3 linked regions of the Homo sapiens genome follow. The protein of the gene in region 1 interacts with the protein of each later gene in a biochemical or structural test. Each region holds a gene or a part of one and is shown on either strand. Other genes may lie near its edges.

What was found. The genes of interacting proteins can lie anywhere in the genome.
Region 2: the proteins of RAB11A (region 1) and RAB11FIP5 form a complex in vitro, tested with the Homo sapiens proteins (2 studies listed by BioGRID).
Region 3: the proteins of RAB11A (region 1) and RAB11FIP4 form a complex in vitro, tested with the Homo sapiens proteins (2 studies listed by BioGRID, with this or other methods).

The regions. Positions count from the first base shown.
Region 1 is NC_000015.10:65,879,467-65,886,490, forward strand, and holds part of RAB11A (ras-related protein Rab-11A), read left to right. Parts: intron 1-204; coding exon 205-285; intron 286-7,024. UniProt on the Homo sapiens protein: The small GTPases Rab are key regulators of intracellular membrane trafficking, from the formation of transport vesicles to their fusion with membranes.
Region 2 is NC_000002.12:73,088,925-73,095,948, reverse strand, and holds part of RAB11FIP5 (rab11 family-interacting protein 5), read left to right. Parts: intron 1-6,633; coding exon 6,634-7,024. UniProt on the Homo sapiens protein: Rab effector involved in protein trafficking from apical recycling endosomes to the apical plasma membrane. Involved in insulin granule exocytosis. May regulate V-ATPase intracellular transport in response to extracellular acidosis.
Region 3 is NC_000017.11:31,387,204-31,394,698, forward strand, and holds the start of RAB11FIP4 (rab11 family-interacting protein 4), read left to right. Parts: upstream 1-4,471; 5' UTR 4,472-4,649; coding exon 4,650-4,808; intron 4,809-7,495. UniProt on the Homo sapiens protein: Acts as a regulator of endocytic traffic by participating in membrane delivery. Required for the abscission step in cytokinesis, possibly by acting as an 'address tag' delivering recycling endosome membranes to the cleavage furrow during late cytokinesis.

The sequences.
Region 1 (7,024 bases):
GAGACCTGCATCTCTACTTATATAAAGAAGTAAATAAAGTAAGTAAATAAATAAAGTGTAAACAGAATGGTGCCCTTACTGTCCCAGAAGTTGAGGAGGTCTTAAGTTTTAAAAAGTTCTGTTATTTTTCCTTTTGAGGGCTTGAGTATATCCTATTCCTTGTTTTAAAACTTAACAAGACTGAACTTTTGTGTCTCCCCTCAGAAAAGAATGGTTTGTCATTCATTGAAACTTCGGCCCTAGACTCTACAAATGTAGAAGCTGCTTTTCAGACAATTTTAACAGGTAAGACTTGTATTTTCAGATTACACCAGTAGGACTAGAAGTTTTAGGAAGGTAATTTAAACAAACTAATCAGTAACTAAACTATATATCAGCCGAGAGTGACTATCATTTGAGAGCTACTCTAGCAAAAGCTGTTTAGAGTGCAAAATTAACTACAACCCTTGCTCACTGAGCTTCAGTTGTCCTAATTCATCTGATTTATAGTGGGAAAAATACTTTGAAAATAATTCATTCACTTCCATTATTACTTCAGTCCAGGTATTCCATTCTTCATGGTCACAAAGTAATGTTTAAATGTACTTTTATGAGGTAAATATTGAGATCCCAGCTATAGAAAGATATAAATGCCCTTTTTTAAATTTAGTAAAGGCAAAGCTAGGGAAAAAACATTTTTAAAAATTATAGCGACAAAATAAAATTCTCCCATGATACAGAAGAAGGGTATCCCTTGCGTATTCTATATTGTATCATGGGAGATAATTGGTAGATAAAATCAGCCAATGATTGCATATAGAAAAGTTTTAAAAAGTAGTTGGAAAGAGATGGAGTTCATGCTGTTTTGGAATGTGAATGACCAGGTCAGCCTCTGAGATAAGAAGTGTTCACTCATATTTATCCTGAAACTATTAGAATAACCAGATTTATTAGTAAGATTAGTCTTAATCTTCTAATTAGTACTTTGATGGGTTGTTTTTAAATACTTTTAAATTGTATGTTACTTTTAAGAACTCATGATTTAAAATGTGGTCTTAATATATAGTATAGTTTTACGTGGCATTGTTCTAAAAAGTCTATACAGAGATATGATTGAGTTTCCAATTATAATGTAACAAGTTTTGATTTATTGTTTGTATGCAGCCCCTGTATTAGAGATTAACAGATTTTAACTTTAACATGTTATCTTCTTTTACTGTAAAAATGTAAGCGTAAAGTCAAGGAGTTAAGATTTGGAAGCCTGACTTGGGTTCTAGTCCTGGCTCCTCCACTTACTGTTAGTTGTACAATCTTAGGCAAGTTACCTAACCCTTTTAGGCCTTAATTTCTCCATCTATAAAATTCATATATATTTTGAGGAGTTTTGTTATTTCTTTTTTGAGAGAAGGCTTATATTTATAAAATCTTGTGATAGGATTTGACTTGACTTTTGTGACCTAAAGGTTTTTTGTCTCAGTAACCCTTAGCAAAGAATGGTCTGTCACTGCCCTAGACTTCAAAAATGAGTACCTGTAAAGTACCCATTTTGAATACTGTAAATTACTTATCTATCCCTGGTATATAGAGAACAGTTGGCAAATTAGTAGCTGAACGGCAATTAAGGCATGAGAAAATTGGAGATTTATGTACCTATTTTATTATAATTCTTTTCTGTTATCAGAAGAATAGTGCTGGGGTTGGATAAGCAGTCTTTGGAACACAGTAGCTTTCCTTTAGAATGTTCTCTGTCAAAGTTTCACTGCAGATTGTTTTAAGCAAGCAAGATTTGATTAAATATGTAGTATGTCTGCAAGTCCTTGTTTTCTTTATAGCCATTTGTGTACATTTTATTAAGTCAACATGTAGAGTACTAGATTGAGACCCAGGAGTTCTAGGGCATTACATTTTTATCACTTTGCTTCTACTCCCCGTTTAACTAAAGTCACTGAACCTCCCTGCTCCTCAGAGTCATAGTCTTAAAACATGTGAATTAAATTACCTTAAAGATGTGTGAGCATTTTAAGGCCTCAGAAAGTCTCATCTGAAAAAACTTTTTAGACAGTCCTCATTGTTGGAATATTTTTTATGTTCCATCAAATCTCCTCTGCTGTAATTCTGGCCCATTTATTCTGATATTAAGTGAAGATGAGCCCAAGTCTTCCATCTGCAGTTAACTATTTTATGCATCATTTTGTAACATTGAGCTTCTGATCCACTCAAACATGAACTAGTCGGTACTTAAAATTGAGCCCTTTAAGAGCTGGGCATGTTGATGCACGCCTGTAATCCCAGCATTTTGGGAGGCTGAGGCAGGCGGATCGCTTGAGCTCAAACATCCTAACACCTGTAGAACAACACAGATGTCTGCTGCCACATGCAGTGATCTCAAAAGTTCAAGACCAGCCTGGGCAACATGGTAAAACCCTGTCTCTAAAAAAAAAAAAAAAAAAAAAAAACACAAAAAAATTAGCCAGGCATGGTAGTGTGTGCGCCTGTAGTCCCAGCTGAGGTGGGAGGATTGCTTGAGCCTGGGAGGTTTAGGCTGCAATGAGCCGAGATCATGCCACTGCACTCCAGCCTTGTGGGCAGAGTGAGATCCTGTCTCAAAAAGAAAAAAAAAGATGAACATATAGTTGCTTTTCTTAAAATTCACTCTAGATTGAACTTTTGTTACAGCTTAATTGTTGCTTGAAAGCAAAGAAGACTTTAGTTTCACTTGCTACCACTTTTCCTTTCTATATTCACTGTTTCCTCAGCTTCCTGCATAAATCTCACTGTTGGTCTGTAGGATCAGAGATCACTGCATGTGGCAGCAGACATCTGTGTTGTTCTGCAGGTGTTAGGATGTTTGTTCTAAACTTTCTTCCTCCTGTATGCCAGTGGAAGTGTGAATGCATAGAGAAAACAGTGAAGAGGACAGACTCTTTATTGCACTTGATTCTACCTTAAATGTTAACAGTCTTAAGGGAGTATTTACGTTGTGTTTTGATATTGCTGAAAGAAAAAATAGCTTTAAAATTTCTAAAAATTGAGATGGAGCCCAGTCTGGTCTTGAATTCCTGAGCTCAAGCCATCTGCTTGCCTTGGCCTCCCAAAGTGCTGGGATTATAGGCATGAGCCACCATGCCTGGCCAAAAATTTTAAGTTGTAAAATTATATATCAGAAAATTTACATTGTTACTTCAGAGTTAATTGTGTTGTTGGTTTCAGAATAGACCCATGGCATTCTTGACACCCATGAATTTGAAAGTGACTCCATGAGATGATTTTGCTGATGGTATTTTTTTAGAGGTAGTTTACTAGTATGAGAGTGAGACTGGTAGATTGCTCCGCCTCTGAATTTCAGTACAGCTTTGTCTTTTCTCAGGTTCACTAAAGGATGTTTTTAATACATACCTTTTACTTTTTTATTTTAACTTTGCATTTTGACAATTTCAAATTTAAAGAGGTTGAAATAATAGTAAAAAGAATTTGCAAATATCCTTCACCCATATTCCTCAGATGTTAATATTTTACCACATCTGCTTTGTCCTTTTCTTTCTCTTCGCTCTAAATATATACATATTTTTTCGGCACCATGTGAGATTAAGTGGCAGACATGATGACCCTCATCCTTGAGTACTTTTCAGTGTATATTTTGTAAAAACAAGGATATTCTCTTTTATAGCCACAGTATAATTATCAAAATCAGAGAGTTAGATAATAGTGCCACATCAGTGTTTAATTACAGACCTTATTCAGATTTTGCCAGTTGTTCCAATAATACCCTTATTAGCCAAAGAAAGTCCAAGATCAGGTCATGCGTTTCATTCAGCAGTCATATCTCTTTAGTCTCCTCTAATCTCGAACAGTTCCTCAATCTTTTGTTTATTGACCTTGACATTTTTGAAGGGTACAGTCCAGTTATTTTGTTGTGTACCTCATTTTGGGCTTTTCTGATTTCTTTCCTCATGATTAAACTCAAGTTATACACTTTTGGCAGGAACACCACAGAAGTGTTCTCAGTGCATCATATCAGCAGGTTTGTGATAATTGGATGTCCTATTAATTACTAGTGATGTTAACTTTGACCACTTGGTTAAGGTGATGTCTGCTAGGTTTCTCCATGTAATTAATATGTCCAGGATATCTTTTTAGCATGAACACTAAATTCTTTTTTTTTTCCCCTGAGTCTTGTTCTGCCAGGCAAGACTCTGCCTCCTAGGTTCAAGCAATTCTCGTGTCTCAGCCTCCCGGGTAGCTGGGATCATAGGCCTGAGCCACCATGCTCTCTAATTTTGTATTTTAAGTAGAGACCGGTTTTACCATGTTGGCCAGGCTGGTCTCTAACTCCTGGCCTCACGTGATTCGCCTGGCCTCCTAAAGTGCTGAGATTACAGGTGTGAGCCACCGCCCCTGGCCTTATTCTGCTTTTGGTATGTCAGAAAATTTCCATAAAAAAAAAGTTAGAGATGTATTAACTGAATTACTACATTTTCCAAAATTAAGAACTAATTTCTCAGAAGTTGAAAAACAGTAAGCTGTAGTCAACTGAATATGTAAACTAACAAAAACAGACAGCAAGTGTATCTTTTCTTAGATTCTTTTGTGGGGGAAGGGGAGTGGCTAAAATTTATGTCTGAGAAGGTTGACAGTGGTTCAAATGTGAAGAGGCATTAAGGAAAGACAACTAGGATTCAATAAAGACAGGCTACTAAAATTAAAATTAAAAAAAAAAAGGATATGGAATCTTTATTTAGATTTTGTTTCAATGAAAAAGGATGGGATGGGAGGGTGCCAAGGCTAAAGAAAAGGATTTACCTTTCAGTCATTCAATCAGATGAGTGGCTAAGGAATAAAGATAATTAACTTGCATCTTTAAGCTTTCCCTCTAGTCTCAAACTGGGAGGCTCTTCTTTTTCAAGTGTAAATTATGTGTGTAAATTAAGATGAAATATGTAACCCACTGTAAGTTTTAACTTCCTTATAAATTGTTTTGAAGATTAAATTAGGGGAACCAAAACAAAGAAAAGTTCTTACATAAAAAACAAATATATGTAAAACTGGAAGAGAGGGAAAGGCAGACTTCTCAAAGAACATAGAGAAGTAAATAATTAAAGAGATCTCATTACAAAGCAAGAAATTTGAGCAGTGTTGGTGTGTTACAAGTACAGCATACTGTTTTTTAGAAATAGATTACTGCTGCACTTACTCCAGTTACCAAAAAGGATGTCTGCTAATAAAAATGCCACCAAAGCAATAAAGAGTGATTGGCTTTAAGAGGTTCCACAAGTAATTTACATACTTAAGTCTCTTGTGGCTGGGTGTGTCATTAAAAAAAAAAAAAAACCAAACCAAAAACCTGATAAGAAAGTAGGAAGCAGGTAACTTCTAGCTGTCTGATTAGAGAAGGTTATTTCATTGGGAGTTTTGTGGGGGTGGGGGGGTATGCTAAACTAGATCTATTTCCTTCTTTCAAAGGCATGTTCTCCTTTAGAACCAAATGAATATACCAATTCCTATGCAGTCGCCCCCACCGTTTTTTTTTTTTTTTGGAGACAGGGTCTCACACTGTCCCCAGGCTGGAGTGCAGTGGTGCAGTCTCAACCTCACTGCTCACTGAGTGAGACTCTGTCTCAAAAAAAAAGGCATTCTCCTACATAATCACAATACCATATGTCGTATCCAAGAAATTTAACATTTATACAGTTTTTTTTTTTTTTTTTTGAGACAGTGTGCTCTGTTGCCCAGGCTGGAGTGCAGTGGTGCTATCTCACTACAACCTCCCCTCCGGGACAAGCGATTCTCCTGCCTCAGCTTCCCAAGTAGCTGAGACTACAGGCGGGTGCCACCCCACCTGGCTAATTTTTTTTTTGTATTTTTAGTAGAGACGGGGTTTCACCATGTTTGCCAAGATGGTCTTGATCTCCTGACCTCGTGATCCGCCCGCCTTGGACTCCTAAAGTGCTGGGATTACAGGCGTGAGCCACCTCGCTTGGCCCATTTATACAGTTTTTAATGTGCAATCCATATTCATATTTCTTCAGTATACTAATAATGTCCTTTGTAGATTTGTTTTTTAATTAAAAAATTCAAGATCCATTTAAAGATCACATGTATAGGAGCCAAGGGAAGTGTCCCTATTGCCCTCTGAAGGTTTGCTGAAAGCTATCTGATACAGCTTTGGACCTTTCACGAGGTCCAAACGATAGGTAGAGGTTAGGAAGAAAAAGAATCCTGCTTTATCATTTTTATATCATTTAGATTTCTCTTGTAGGAGATCTAAATAGAAACCTCTGAAAGTTTGCTGGAAAATCAACTCACAAAAGGCATTTTAATTGGAGAAAAGGCATACGAAATTTATTAACATGTACACTGTACACTGGTTTTCTCTGGGGAGAACCAGAGAGATGACCCACCTCCCAATGGCATTCAGAGGCTTATGCCATTCTGGCAAAACAGGTTATGGGAAGGAGGAGAAAAGGAATTCTGTTGAGGGGATTACTGGGGAGGATGAACGGATCAGTGGACAGAAATTAATTGGTACATTATCTCGTGAAAGAGTCTGTTTAAGTGTGGTTACATTCTTGATCTTACAGGGAGGGGAAGAAAAAACAATTGTCCCTTTTAGTGGGTCTGGATCTCAGGCAGATGAAGGAACTTCAGCTTCATCCTGTGCCAGGGAGAGAGGATGAGGGGGAGAAGGTCAGAGAGACCTTGAGGCTTCTTTAGTTCAGCATATCAAAACGCCATTTTGGAGTATGGGTTTCTGAGCCTTAACAGATGGAATTGTTTTGTATCTGGGATGTTGAATAAAGTAGCCACAGGTTACTATTGAGCACTTGAAATGTGGCTAGTTAGATGAGGAATTGGATTTTAAATTTTATTTAATTAAAATAGATGGCTACTCTCTTGGATAGCACAAATTTAGAACATTTATCCCCATCTCAGTCTGGATTTATCTCATTATTTCCTCATGATTAAATTAGTTTTAAATATTTTTGTCAGGAATACATGGTGTCCTTTATAGGAATACATTGTGTCTTTCCTAGTACATCGTATTAGG
Region 2 (7,024 bases), on another chromosome or scaffold:
TTTGAGGGGCTAAGGACAGGACAAAACCCTGAGGTCCCCTCAGTGGCATCTCAGGGCTCTGTGCTCTGGGATTGTGCCAACCTTTTGAAAGGGGGTCTGGTCTTCAGGGTCTGTGATGTGTAGCCAGGCCTTTACTGGCCTCTGTCTTCTCAGGGTACTCAGGGCAGGAGTATATGCATTCTGCTTTTCTGAAAGTTGCTAAACCTTAAAGGTTAAGGACATGGGCTTGGAGGCTGGCATTTTCATGTTCAAGTTCCAGCTCCATTACTTACTAGCTGTGTGGCCCTGGGCAACTTACAAACCATCTCCACAACTTAGTTTCCTCATCTGTAAAATGGGCCTCCCATCTCCTGGGCTGGTTGCATGGATAATAAAAGAGCTGCAGAGCCAGGCACACAGTGAGCCCTCAGCAGGGTCAGCTCTGGCCATTCTCTAGCCCCCTCATGTGCAGCCCTCTGCTCAGGTGTGGCCTCTGGGCCAGCAGCAGCATGGGTAGCTGGGAGCTCTCTCAGGTCCACCTACACTTTGGGTATCAGAATACACATTTTAACAAGATCCAGTGATTTTTTTTTGCACTTTGCAGTTTGAGAAGCACTGATGTGTGTCTTCTGAAGAGCAGCATCAGTAGCTGCGTGTGCCTCTTCAGGTGCAAGGAATTTTCTCTTACTGTGCCTTTTCTTACTGTGTCCATCATGTCCTGGCTGCAGAGGCACCTGGGACAAGTCCCAGATAATCACCATCTTCATCAAAACCCTTGTGTCCTGAGCATGTGCTGGCTGGGCCTTGGAGAGTTCAAGTGCCCCAGATGGTGCCCCTGACAGAGAGATGAAGTCAAGGTGGGTGCTTTGCAGGTGGAGCAGCTTAGTTCCTGCAGTGAAGGATGTGCCAGTTAGTGATATATGTGCTGCAGGCAGCCCGGACTCTGAGCACCAGGTGGGTGTCAGGGGAATTGTATGGGGGCAGAATCACTGTCCTTCCTCCTGGTTTGGTGAGAGTGTTGTTTCTCCAGTGGTTTCTGATCTAGGAGGCCTAATTCATCTTAACACTCTTAATTTCTAGAAAGTGCTTAATGCTGCCTGCTCCTCCCCAGTGTGTTCCTTTGGTAACTTACCCCCTCCTGGGGGAGGGATGAGTATTTCTAGGGTCAGTCCTCTCAGAAGCAGCGTGTCCTCGGGACTTGGGAAGGCAAGCCTTACTGGGCAGGAGAAAGACACAGGTTTCTCCTGGGTACCGATTGAGTGTCCTTAAGGACAAGCCCAGGTGGAGAGCCCAGGTGGCCGCTGACCTTAAAGTGATGTAAAGCGTTAGGGACCATCCTTGTGGTTCCCACATGGGGTCTGGGTGAATTCACTCACCTGTGGGGCCCCACCCCCAAACCCACTGAGAAATATAGATAACCAGGCCGGGACCTTCTAGTTCAGTAAGTCTGGGTGGCGTCTTGGGTGGATTTATATCTGTATATAAATCCTGCACCGATGCATAGCAGGTTTGGGTGCTACAGCTGTGGAGCTGTGAAAATGAGAGCTGTCTTGTGAGCCATTGTCTAGATGAATGTTGGGGCCTTGGTCACACCCTGATTGATTTTGGCCATGTCTCTGCCCTGGATGAAAGTGACAGGTCAGGCCTCAGCTTGGGCTTTGGAGTTCCTAAGCCCAGTGCCCCAGTCAGCTAGGCCTGGTGAAGGGCACAGAGAGGGAGAAAAAACCTTGATCAGGTAGGGAGGAAGGAACAGTAGCAGAATCTCCAAAACTGGAGACCAGGGCCTATCTCTTGCACAGCCAGACTTGGGAAGTTGAGGTTGGATTTTTTTTTTTTTTTTTTTTTTTTTGAGACAAAGTCTCACTCTGTTGCCCAGGCTGGAGTGCAGTGATATAATCTTGGCTCACTGCAACTTCCGCTTCCCAGGTTCAAGTGATTCTCATGCCTCAGCTTCCCGAGCAGCTCAGATTACAAACGTGTGCCACCACACCCAGCTAATTATTGTATTTTTAGTAGACACGGGGTTTCGCCATGTTGGCCAGGCAGGTCTCAAACTCCTGGCCTCAAGTGATCTGCCCGCCTTGGCCTCCCAAAGTGCTGGGATTGCAGGCATGAGCCACCATGCGCGTCCGAGGTTGAATATTTATTAAAGGATCTGGCACGTTCCCTTGAAGGCTAGGCAGAGCGATCGGCGTCAGGGATTCAAGAGCAGGAGTCCTAAGAGCTCACGGTCGTGGGAGAGAGTGAGAGGATAAGCTGGTTTTGCCAACCAGGCTTGGCGTGCCTTAGCCTCCCAACAGCCAAGAGGATGGTTGTCCCCACCTGAGGGCCAAGGAAGCGGAGGCTGAGGGAGGTGACCTGGTCAGTGGGGGACCCAGCACTCACCACCATGCCCTGCTGTCAGGCGCATCCAGATGAGAGCTGAGAGAGGGCCCTGCAGGGTTGTAACAGCTCCAGACTGTGCATGCATGATTTCTTTACTTTGGAGCTGTGTGCCCCAGGGGATACTCAGTCAATATCCACAAGAAACACAGTCCAGCAAGGGAGACCTTGGGTGCCCAGGACATGACAACACCAGGGGGTCCTGGGGCACGGTGCTGCCAGATCTGGCTGTAGAGTGAGTTTGGTTCAGAGTGTGTATGCCTGGTCAGAAAGAGGAGGGACTGGGCCAGGCCAGCAGGATGGTGGCAGCTGAGGGAGCTTCCCAGAGGAGTGGGACTTGAACTAGGTCATAGGACCCTGCTGTCATATTCCCCGTGGGGGCTTCAGTCTCTAGGGATGAGGTGCTCAGAGCCCATTTGCTCTGCTGCGTGTGGGGCTCTGTGAAAAGAAAGCCTCCATTTGTTTTCATTGCGGATTCCTCAGCCCCCCTCGACAGTGTTCATAGTTTTCCATTCTCCAGTGGACCTCCATGGTGCCCGACAGGTCTGTGGGGCTGTCTGGTCCAGGCACAGGGAAGTAGCACCTCTAGGGAGGGGGAGGATGTGGCCATCTCAGCTCATGTAGGCCATACTTCTGGGAGAAGGTCTGCTCTGGTTGAGTCCCTGGGGTGCCCAGGGTGGCCAAGGTGCCAGGCAGTATCCCATTCAGTCCTGCCCTTGACTGGGTTGCAGAGGGAGGTGGGGCTGGAAGGGAGGTGGACGAGTGATGGCAGCTGGGGTCCAGAGGTAGGTCCTGGCCATTCTCCATTTCACTGTGCTCTGGATGGGAGAGCCTAAAAAATATTCAGGGAAGCTTTTTCTTTTTCCTTCCGTGCTTCCTTGAAAAACAAGTCCAGGGAGAAACCCAAATTCCCTGTGGGGGAGGGCTGGGCAGAACAGGAGAAGGGGAAGTGACCTTATAGGGGAGAGAGGCCCAAAAGGTCCTTGTGGCAAAGGACCTGAAACTCGGCCTCCCGCCTTCCTCTGAGGGCTGGGAGGCAGAGGAGCACGGCCCATTTTGTGGCTCAGGAAGCTGAGATGAGATAGGAGCAAGAGCTTTCCCTTGTCTCTTTTTCCTATTACCACAGTAATATATGCTCCTTATAAAACATTCAAATAGGACAAAAATAGACAATGTAGGAAGTGCTAGTTCCCTGCAATCTCACCACAGGGCCCCGGTCCCCTCAGGTAATTGCATTACCGCTGTGGTGTGTGCAGTGTGAGTAGCTGGGGCTGAGGGCCCCTGACCTGTCTGCCCCAGCAAAGGCTGGCTGTGCTTGCTGATCCTAGTTACTCAGGGCTTGGGCGGTTTGGGGCTGGAGTCCATACCCTTCTCTTTTGCCCTACCTCCCAGGACTTTCCTGTGCTAGATAGGGCCTAGCCCAGATTTAGGGAAAGTGACTAGGGCTTGGCCTCTAAATAGGTAAAGGGTCAGGCCCACGGTGGTCACTGGGCTGAGAACGTAGAGGTGTGAGGCTGTTGATGCTGCTGGCTGGTCTTTCTGTCAAACTTCCTCTCCTGCCCCACAGACACCCTCACATACATCCTCCAGTCTGTCTGTCTCAATTAGCCTCTCCTCCCCTCACTTCTGCCCGTGCCTTATGAGAGAGGCACCCGCTCGGGCATTTTCTCTGTCCGCCCTGCCTGTGGCACCATCTGTTCCTACCCGGCCTTCTCAGGGGATTGTCTCTCAGGTTTGGGAGGGAAAACCAAAGTCTAGGCTCAGGCCGCTCAGGCTGCGGAGTAGGTCTCCACGGAGGGGACGGGCCATAGCCCACCAGGATTTCGTCATGATGGGCTCTTCTATAGGGATGTAGAAGAGTCAGAGGTGCCCCAGGAAGCCTTTTTAAAAAAACTTCAACATTAAAAAATAATCAAAATACTACCACCACTACCACCAAGCTTTTGCTGTGACTTAATTCTGGATCTTTGGATGTATAGGGACTTTTCATACAAAGGCTCCCCACACCCCACTCTGTGTCCACCAGAAGCTCAGGGAGCTGGCATTGTTGGGGGCAGAGCTCAGGCGGGAGGTGGATCCTGCATCACTGACTGCGGCTTGGGTAGCTCTGTGTGCGTGTGTGTGTGTGTGTATGTGTGTGTGTGCTGTGCAGTCACCAAGGGACTTTGAGCCCTTTAGTGACCAGCCTGACCACTACCACCGGGCTTTATTCCACCTTCATGCTCGATTGGCTGGGTCTGGAATTCCAGGCTAGTGGAAGGCTTTTCCCTCAGAAATGTGAAGACATTCCTTCATGTGGTGCCCAGTGTTGCTAAGGAAGACTCCAGTGCTGTTCGAATCCTTTCATGCCTGGTGTTCTAAGCCTCATAGTCATATCTGTTGGCATGTGTCTGTCTTAGTTCATTGCGCTGCATACTTGTAGGACTGTTCTAGCATTCATGTTCTTCAGTTCAGAAAAACATTCTTGTATGATTTCCTTCATAGTTTCTTCCTTTTTGTGTTCCCTGCTCTCTTTTTTTTAGTTAATAAAGTCTATTTTTCAGAGCAGTTTTAAGTTTACAGAAAAACGAGTGAAAAGTATAGAGAGTTCCCATCTACTCCACCCACGCCCCCACCGCCATTTCTTCTGTTAACATCTTGCATTAGTGTGGCATGTTTGTTGTATTTGAGAGCCAATATCAACACGTCATTGTTAACTAGAGTCTATACATTATGTTAGGGTTCACTTGCTGTTTTGTGCATTCTGTGGGTGTATAACAATGCATGTCCACCATTACGGTAGCATGCAGGATAGTTTTTCTCTCCTGAGAAGTCCCTGTGCTCTGCCTATTCATCGCTCTGTCCTCTCTTCAATCCCCCAGCAACCACTGATCTTTTCACTGTCTCCATAGTTTTGCCTTTTGCAGAATGTCAAATAGTTTTGTCGTGCAAGCATGAAGCCTTTTCAGATTGTCTTCTTTCACTTATGTATGTAAGATCCATCCGTGTCTGTTCATGGCTTGATAGCCTATTTATTTTTATCATTAAGTAGTATTCCATTGTCTGGATGTACCACAGTTTGCTTATCTTTTCACCTACTGGAGGACACCTTGGCAGCTTCCAAGTTTTGGCAATCATGAACAGAGCTGCTATAAACATTTGTGTGCAGGGTGTTTCTTTGGACATAAGTCTTTACCTCAGTAGGCAAAGTACCAAGAAGTGTGATTGCTCCTTGTGTGATCGGAGTTTGCTTAGTTCTCTAAGAAACTGCCAACCCCTGCATAAGAACATCTCTCCCCAGTAGGGCGGGCCCCAGCCACCCTGTGTGGTGGCCATGTGTGTTGGGGGCTGTCTCTGTGTCTCTCTGGGCACAGTGGGTGTGCACCGGGAAGAACTTAAGCTTTGGAGGGCTGGACACCTGGCTCTGAGTCTCCACGGATGGGTTCCTTTACCACTGAGCCTCACCCTCCTGATCTGTACAATGGGGTAGTACCTCTTACCTCATATGCTTTTTGGGAGGTATGTGCGGGAGTGAGGTAAGAACCCTCATGCTGGTCGTAATGCACCATAGATGCTCAACAGATATGAGCGCTCTTCGTCTTTCCTGGGTCTCTTTCTGCCATTCTTGTCTGTTCCTGCATCTTGTAGAGGTATTCCTGACAGGGCTTGGGGTGAGTCAGTGTGTGAGTGAGGTGTGTGTGTGTGTGTGTGTGTGTGTGTGTGTGTATACATACATGAGTGTATGCACTAGCATTCCTGTGTTCCTGGCCCTGGGCCTCTGGGTGAGCTGTTCTTTCCTGGGCTCACGGTGGCTGGGAGCAGAGCTTTGGCTGGGACTGGCCAGAGGAGATGATGTCAACAGGGAGAAATGTGGGTAGGTCTGTCTGTGCTGGGGCCTGGAGATGGGAGGGCTCTCCCAGGCCCAGCCTCACCCCTCTGGGCCTCAGAGTTTCAGATGTAGGGGAGATGGGGCAGAGGAGAGGTCTCTGAGCACCAGGAGAAGGTCCTGGGGTGGGAGGAGGCATGGTGTGGTAACCGCCGCCCTACCTGGTGGCACCCGAGGAGCTTCCCCACTCAGGATGTGGTTTTCTCCATCATGGAAATGTTTTGGATAGTTTCTCAGCTGCATCTGAAGCCTGGAAGCCCAGGCCGATGGGTCAGAGCAGGAGCCTTTGGGGAGAGGCTATCAGTGGCTCTCAGAGCAAGGAGGGGTCTGGGCAGTGCCTGGTACCGGGCGGGAGCCAGGCTCCCTGGGCCCGTGACTGAGTTCTGCCTGCTCCCCTCTTCTCACAGGTGGTACAAGCTGCACTCCAAGCCAGGCAAGAAGGAGAAGGAACGCGGCGAGATTGAAGTCACCATCCAGTTCACGCGCAACAACCTGAGCGCCAGTATGTTTGACCTGTCCATGAAGGACAAGCCAAGGTCTCCCTTCAGCAAGATCAGGGACAAGATGAAGGGCAAGAAGAAGTATGATCTGGAATCTGCCTCTGCCATCCTCCCAAGCAGCGCCATAGAGGATCCTGACCTGGGCAGCCTGGGCAAGATGGGCAAAGCCAAAGGCTTCTTCCTCCGCAACAAGCTGCGCAAGTCGTCCCTGACCCAGTCCAACACCTCGCTGGGCTCGGACAGCACCCTGTCCTCAGCCAGCGGGAGCTTGGCCTACCAGGGACCTGGCGCCGAACTC
Region 3 (7,495 bases), on another chromosome or scaffold:
TGATTGCATTAAGGGTCCACCTAGCTAACCCAGAATAACCCCCCTGTCTCCAGATCCTGTTGTTTTTTTTGTTGTTAGTTTTTTTTTTGTTTTTTTTTTTTTTGGAGGCAGGGTCTCACTCTTGTCACCCAGGCTGGACTGTAGTGGCATGATCTGGGCTCACGGCAACCTCCACCTCCTTGGCTCAAGCCATCCTCCTGCCTCAGCCTCCTGAGTAGTTGAGACTACAGATACATGCCACGATGCCCAACTAATTTTTGTATTTTTTAGTAGAGACAGGATTTCATCACATTGCCTAGGCTGGTCTCGAATTACTGGACTGAAGCAATCTGCCTGCCTCAGCCTCCCAAAGTGCTAGGATTACAGGCGTGAGCCACCACGCCCAGCCTCCAGATCCTTAATTACATCTGCAAAGACCCTTTTTCTAATGAGGTAACATTTACAGCAGGGGTCCCAACGCCCAGACTGCAGACCATTACCAGTTCATGGCCTGTTAGGAACCACAGCAGGAGGTGAGCGCCGGGTGAGTGGGCATTACCGCCTGAGCTCCACCTTCCGTCAGATCAGTGGCATTAGATTCTCATAGAAGCGGGAACCCTATTGTGAATGGCGCAGGAGGGGGATCTAGGTTGCGCACCCCTTATGAGAATCTGAAGCCTGATGATCTAAGTTGGAACAGTTTCATCCCAAGACCCTCTTCCCCCGACTTGTATGAAACCAGTCCCTGGTGCCAAAAAAGGTTGGGGACCACTGATGTACAGGGATTGGAATATAGATATCATTTAAGGGGGCATTTTTCAGCCTACCATGCCATATTTGTCCATTCCTTAATTTATTCCTACACAGACCCTAACTATGTGTGTATGGGCATTATTTAGGAGCTACAGAAATCAGGAGAGAAATAGACACAGTCCCTGCTCCCAGGGACCTCATGGTCACTCCTGTGACCTTTCATACAGTTTCCCAGATAATCCGGTGATAGACAATAGGAGTAAGATGGTAAGGATAGTCACAAGGACAATAGCTGTCACTAACCAGCAGCACTGTTCTGACACTTACAATGTATGTATTAACTTACTGACTCTCACCACAGCCTTATCCATACCTGTAAGTGGGCTGCAGTCTGTACTTTTCACTTCTCTGCAGGAGCACATGGGAGAGGTGGTCAAGGTGGGCAAGGAGTGGGGTGGTCATGAAAGGCTTCCGGTAGGAAGTGCCACTTCCACAACACAAGGACAGGAATTAGAGAAAGTGGAATTGGGTGGGGGTAGGATTGAGACCTCCCACCCACTAAGCAAAGGGAGGCAGGAGGGAGCCTGGATGCTCCCAGACTAGGGTTAAGGAGAGGCAGGAGAGTATGAAGACACTGCACAATGCCAGCTCAGGCAATGGTGGCCATTGAGTTTTCAGCAGGGGAGGGACCTGATCAAACTTGTTTCTTCCTAGAGAAGGGGCCGGAGTCCCAACTGTCCCTTCCATGTATATTTCCCAGTATATTTCCAGCCTGCCCAGGCTGCTGCAGCTGTTGGAAATCCCCTGGAGAATCAGAGGTCACCTGGAGGAAGCGGAGGACAGAAAGGAGGCTCCGCGCCTTCCCGCCCTATCCATGGGGACCTCTTGCTTTCCTGGAGCAACCCCCTTCACCCTGCAGCCGGCCCTGACATGGGTATTCTCTTGCTGCTTCTGCTCGGGGCTGCACTCTGAGCTCTTGGATCAGGGTTTTGGGAGCCCTAGTGGTCCCAGGTCCACTTCCAAGGACCCAAGGACTCCATAAATTGCACCATCTCTGAGGGACCTTTGGGTAGGCACTCAGCCATTTCTGCAGGCCCTCTTGGGCTCCTAGAGCCTGGCACCTCAGTGTAGATCACACTGGGCCATGACTGCCCCCATCAAGTTCAGCAAGTGGCTGCACCCCTTTCACTGTCTCCCTAGCATACCCAACACAACGTAGGTGCTCAACAAAAACGTGACAACCCCAGAAAGAATGCCTGTGACGTGCTTTGCTGGCCCCAGCAGCACAGCGGTGAGCAAGAGACCCAGTGCCACTGGTGGGGGAGGCAGGTGTCCTTCAAACCATCGCCCACCAGAGACAAAACTGCAGAGACCTGGGCAAGGAGAGTCCGGTCAGGGAAAGCTCTCCTGGGGGATTTTTGAATTTGTGATGATCCTGTCTTTGACAAGAACTGGCTAATCTGGTTGCGGGATTCTGTCTTGGTTCACTTGGGATTTGTTCATGCTCAGGTCTGAGGTCCCCGCCTCTGCCAGCTGAAGTGGGTGAGTCTTCCAGCTCCCCTGTCCCCAGTTAGGGGGCATTCAATGCCAGGCTGAGCGCGGAGAGCCATTTCTGCAGCCCCCACCAGGGGGCAGCCCCAGCTCCTGGCCATCTCCTTTCTGTGCTGAGCCCCTTGGGTGAGAGAAAATGGCACGAGCTGACCTTGGACGAACTAATATCGGGGTCCCAGGGGCAGGCAGCAGCCCCCAGCTTCCACTCCCTACCTCCTTGCCAGGGGGCTGGCTGGATCTCCAGCAGCCAGTCTCTCCCAGCCAGCTGCTTGTCCTTATTCTCCACTTCCACCTCCATTTTGCAGGGTAGGTCGGGGGAAAGCAGCATTGCTTAGATTCGCTCTCATCTTCAGTTGCCCTAAAAGGAAGGTACTATTATCCTCACGGTACAGGCGAGGAAACCGGCTAAAATATGCTAGTATCCTGCTGAGCGGCATCCAGCTAGCAGAGACGCTCCTACTCAGCCGAATACCCCTACTCCACTCCCACGGCCTCCCCTTTCCCGCTTTCTCACATTTCGGACTCCTCAATCCTCAGAACCACAGGTCTCTCTTCCCAAGAGGTGTTGCCTTTCGTGGCTCTCAGACGAACTGAAGGGTCAAAGGAGAGTAGCTAAAAGCCAGGTTCATCCCAGGAGCCGGGGCTGGAAAGAAGAGGTCCCCGCCCACTGTCAGAAGGCAAATGGCAGTCCCTGCGCAGGATATATTCAGGGTTGAGCAGGAAGACCACAGAGGTACAAACCGAGGCCCAGCTAGGGGAGGCCATGCAGTTCACCCCGTACTCCCTGTCTGCGCCACTACGTTGCTCCCGGCTCCTCACATAATGGGCGGGCCCATCCCCTCTGGGTGGGGCTTCCTCTGGGCCCACTCTTGCCTGGAGATCAGGGACTTGAAGGTAATTAAGACATATCTTGCCCTGGAGGGCTTCCCAGCATGGTAGGGGAAATGGGCATCCCACTAGAGAATTAAGAATTAACTGGGCACCTGGAAGAAGGGCTTAGAACTCAGAATAGAAGATAAGATGGCGTGCCATCAGAGAAGCCTTCCCGGAGGAGGAAACCTCTGTGCTGAGCATGACAGCATAGGTGGGAGTAGACTCAGCCAAGGCCTTTTTTTGGGTTGGGGCCAGTCGTTGCCACAAAGACCTGATGTGCCGAGCAAGAAGGTGGAGAGAAGAGCCCGGCCGGGTCCTGCAGGGCCCCGAGGCTGGGCTGGGAAGTTAGCACAAGCTGGGGTGGAGGCTCCGCTGAGCACTAATGGGAGGAGGCCAGGGTCCTGACCTAGAGCCTGCGGCCAGCGGGACAGAGATTCTGTCCTGGATTCTCTGAGCTTGGGGCATGCGGGCTGCCAGGGAGGTGTGATGGTGGGAACCCGGCGAAAGGGAGGAAGCCTCTTCCAGGCGTGGAGCAGCCTTGGGCCCTGAACAGGCAGGCCTCTGGAAGCGCCTCGCTTTTCCTCCCTCCGGCCTCATCCTGGTTTTCTCCTCATCTCCCCGTCGCAGGGTCCCGGGTCCAGGCTGGGGTTCAGTTGCCTGCTCCTCCTCTCTGTGCCCTCCCCCGCCCGATGGCCCCACAAGTGCTGTCTTGCAGGAGAGCGCCGGGAGACCGCAGGGCGGAGGTGAAGAACGGAGTCCAGAGCCCTCCAGAGATGGCAGCGAATCCCGGCCCTGCCTCTTGCCAGCTGTGTGGCCTAGAGTGAGTCCGACCTCTCTGGGCCTCAGCTTCCTCCGGGATGAATGCAGTCACGGAACGCGCCAATGCAGGAGGCCCCCAGGACATCCTGAGCGCTCGGGAGACGCCAGGCGCGGCAGCGGGCACGGATAGCGGAAAGGGGCGCGACCCCGCGGAATCCTCCGGCAGGGCAGGGCCTTTGGGTGGCTCCGGGTGTCCAGAGGAAGGGGTGGGCTCGGGGACGCGGAGGGAAACTGGGGACGCGGAGGGAAACTGAGGTCGCGGAGGACGCGGCCGTTGGCAGCTCGCTGCGCCTGCCGGCCCCGCGTGGGCCGCCCCACTCGGGAGGACGCGGGCTCCTTTTGTCTGCAGCGTCCCCGCCGCCGCCGCCCCCGCCGCCTCCCCCTCTCCCTCCCATTTTCGCCGCGGCCCCCGCCCCTCCCCTCCCCGCCCCCTATTGCCCCTCCTCCTTCCCCTCCCCACTCTTCTCCTTCCCTCCCCTCCCCTCCCTTCCCCTCCGGAGCGGCTGGGGCTGCGGCGCCGCTGCTGACACGGATCGGCCGCGGCCGCCACCGGGCGGAGGCTGCGCGGCGCAGACCCAGACGGGCGGCCCCGGAGGGCGCGCGGCGATGGCGGCGGCGGGCAGGCGGCGGGCGCGGCGGGCGAGGGGTCCGGGCTGAGCTGCGGGCCGGCCCGGATGGCGGGCGGCGCGGGCTGGTCGGGCGCCCCCGCGGCTCTGCTGCGCTCCGTGCGCCGCCTGCGCGAGGTGTTCGAGGTGTGCGGCCGCGACCCCGACGGCTTCCTGCGCGTGGAGCGCGTCGCGGCGCTCGGACTGCGCTTCGGCCAGGGCGAGGAGGTAAGCTGGCCCGACCCCAGTCCCGGCCCGGGGACCCCAGCCCAGCCCCGCCGCCCCTCCCCCAGCTCCCCCGCCGGGTCACCCGCGTGGCCCGAGGCGGTGGCCTCCCTCCCAATCCCCTCCCTCCGCCGGAGCCCAGGACCTCGGCCCCCCCCGGGTATCCCTGGCCCAGCCGGGCCCTCGCTTTCCGCCCCCCGGCGCCCGTGCCCCGAGCGTCACGCGTCACGCCTAGGGTGGCTTCTGCGCCCACCTTCCTTCCTCGGCCATGCAGGTCCTTCTGAGCGGTCTGCACATCCACCCTTGTCTGGGGGAGAGAGCTGCCAGAATCCGGCCCTAGGCTCCCCACCCCACCCGGCGCTGCGGAGACCAAGATGCAAGGGTCTGTGTACGTCCTGCTGGGCCGGGCCAGGGGGTGAAAGGGACCGGTAGGGGTGCTCTGCAGCCTTGGCTCCTCGGCTGCACACACCCTGCCCAGACACGGAAGGAGGTGTCTGCTGGGGCCACCGTGTACTCCCGGGCCAGTGTCGGGTGACCTCTCATTCAGGCTCTGCTGGGCAGCCAGGCTGGCAGCTGGCTGTGTTGGTTGCAGCAGGCCAGGCAAAGCCAGGCTCGGGGAGTGGTGGCTGAGCAGAGGGCTTTCATGTGGCGGGGCCGCATCTATTTGGGGAAAGCAGGACTTACGTAGATTGTTAACAGGGCTGGAAGCGGAGGGTCGGTGCCGCCAGTAGGGTGGACGGAGTCATATCACTAAACGCACACTACACCAGTGTCCTCTGGTGCCACCGGCATGGGGACTGGGGACTGTGTCTCAAGGGGAGGACAAGACACCCACCTGGCTGAAATGGTCAGGGGTTTCCCCTGGAGCCAAAAGCCCTGAGAAGTGGGTTTCCAAGGCCATCTAAGGCCTCAGGCCCTGCATGGGGGGCCTGGGGCCATGGGCCTCAAATGGGCACTGGCTGGCATTGTGTTCCCAGAACAGGTCGGACCAGGCATTTCAGAACATGGGAGAAGCTGGGTGATGGCCAGGTTGGGCCCGTGCCTCTGCGTCACCAGAGAGTGGGAGGCGATTGAGAATCATCTCTCCACCCGCACCTGGGCATGGGCCGGGACTTGTGAGTCGCTGAGAGCTGTGGGCAGAAGAGAGTGAGGCAGCTTCAGGGCTTGAGAACTCAGGTACCCACCACAGGAAAGACCACTGCAGTGCCTGTGAGAGCCCAGACTGCCCTCTGCGGGGCTTTGCTGAGGGACACTGCCTGCTGCCACCATGACCCTTCTTCCCCAAAGGCCAGCCAAGCCCTTCCGTTTTTCCAGTGGCTCCCATCTGGGGCAGGCTGAGCAGACTCCTGGCATGGGGATAGTCGCGCTCCTTCCTCTCAGAACACAGACTGCAGGTCGGGTAAAGAAGCTACCAGCTCTGGCTGAAACCTGGAGTCCCCGAACTCAGAGCCTCAGTAGTGGGAAGGGCCTCCCAACAACCTCTGGCAGGGGCCACCGGCCTCAGCCACGTGCCCAGCAAGCCTCACCCACTTCTCCCCCAGCTGGACAGTTCCTGCCATTAGAACCTTCTCCCTCATACACTCTAGAGACAGACCTGCTTGTCACTTAGTCATCACCGTTCTGCACGGGGACTCACATAGGTCTCTCTTCTTTGGGGGAGCCTTTAAATATTTGAAAATAGCACTCCTGCCCCTTCTCTCCTTCCCAGCTCCATACTCCCATTTTCCCTTCTCCAGGCCAAATACCCCAGTTCCTGAAGCCCTAGGCCATTTCCATGTGACCCAGTAGCCAGACCTCTGGCTTCTGGCCTTGGAGCTGCCATCGACTAATTCTGTGATTCAGTTTTCCTAGCAATAACATGAAAGGGCTGGACAAGCAGACCGCCCCCCGCCGCCCCCACCAGGACTATATTAGCCCCAAGACCTCACACATATGCACACAGCTTAGGGTGGGGCTGCCTCTGAATGGGGCACTGCACTCTGCTTATATTAAGTTTCTGGCCACCGAAACCTCCAGGGATCTGTTTTAGAAACCTCTGCCAAGCCAGGGATTCTCCACCCTTCGGGGAGGGTCAGTGATTTTTTTCTTTTAAAAGCATACTCTGAGATTACTACAGAAGCGGTGGATATGCATTGCAGAAAACTGGAAATAGGGACAAGCAAAATAAAAAGTATTGTGTCCTATCTCTCAGGCAGCGCCTCAATGACACTTCTGTCAGACCTTTCCAGAGCTGTTTCCATGCTTATATGTCAATTTTCTCCAGAAAATGAGATCATACTGTGCATACTGTTTTGTAACCTGATTTTTTTTGCCGGTAAATGATCATGACTTTTCTGCTTCAATAAATTTTCATCTGGTTTAATATGCAGACCTTTTTCAGATTTCCCTATTTGACCCCAAAATGTCCATTTTTGCTGTTTCCTCTCCAGGACTGTGCAGTGTATGTGGTTGTTGTCACCTTTTAGTCTCTCTTACTGTACACAATTCCTTTTTCTTTTCTTTTCTTTTCTTTTTTCTTTTAACAATCCTGGCTTGTGGAAGCATTCGGGCCTGTTGTCTGTCAGTAATTTCTGGAATCTAAGCCTGTTTCTTGGCCCTTATTCCCATTTAATTTCGTCTTGTTCATTTCATCACATTGTATCTGTCAAGAAAGAGAATCTAGCATCCTACCTCTATCACTCTCAGCTGTG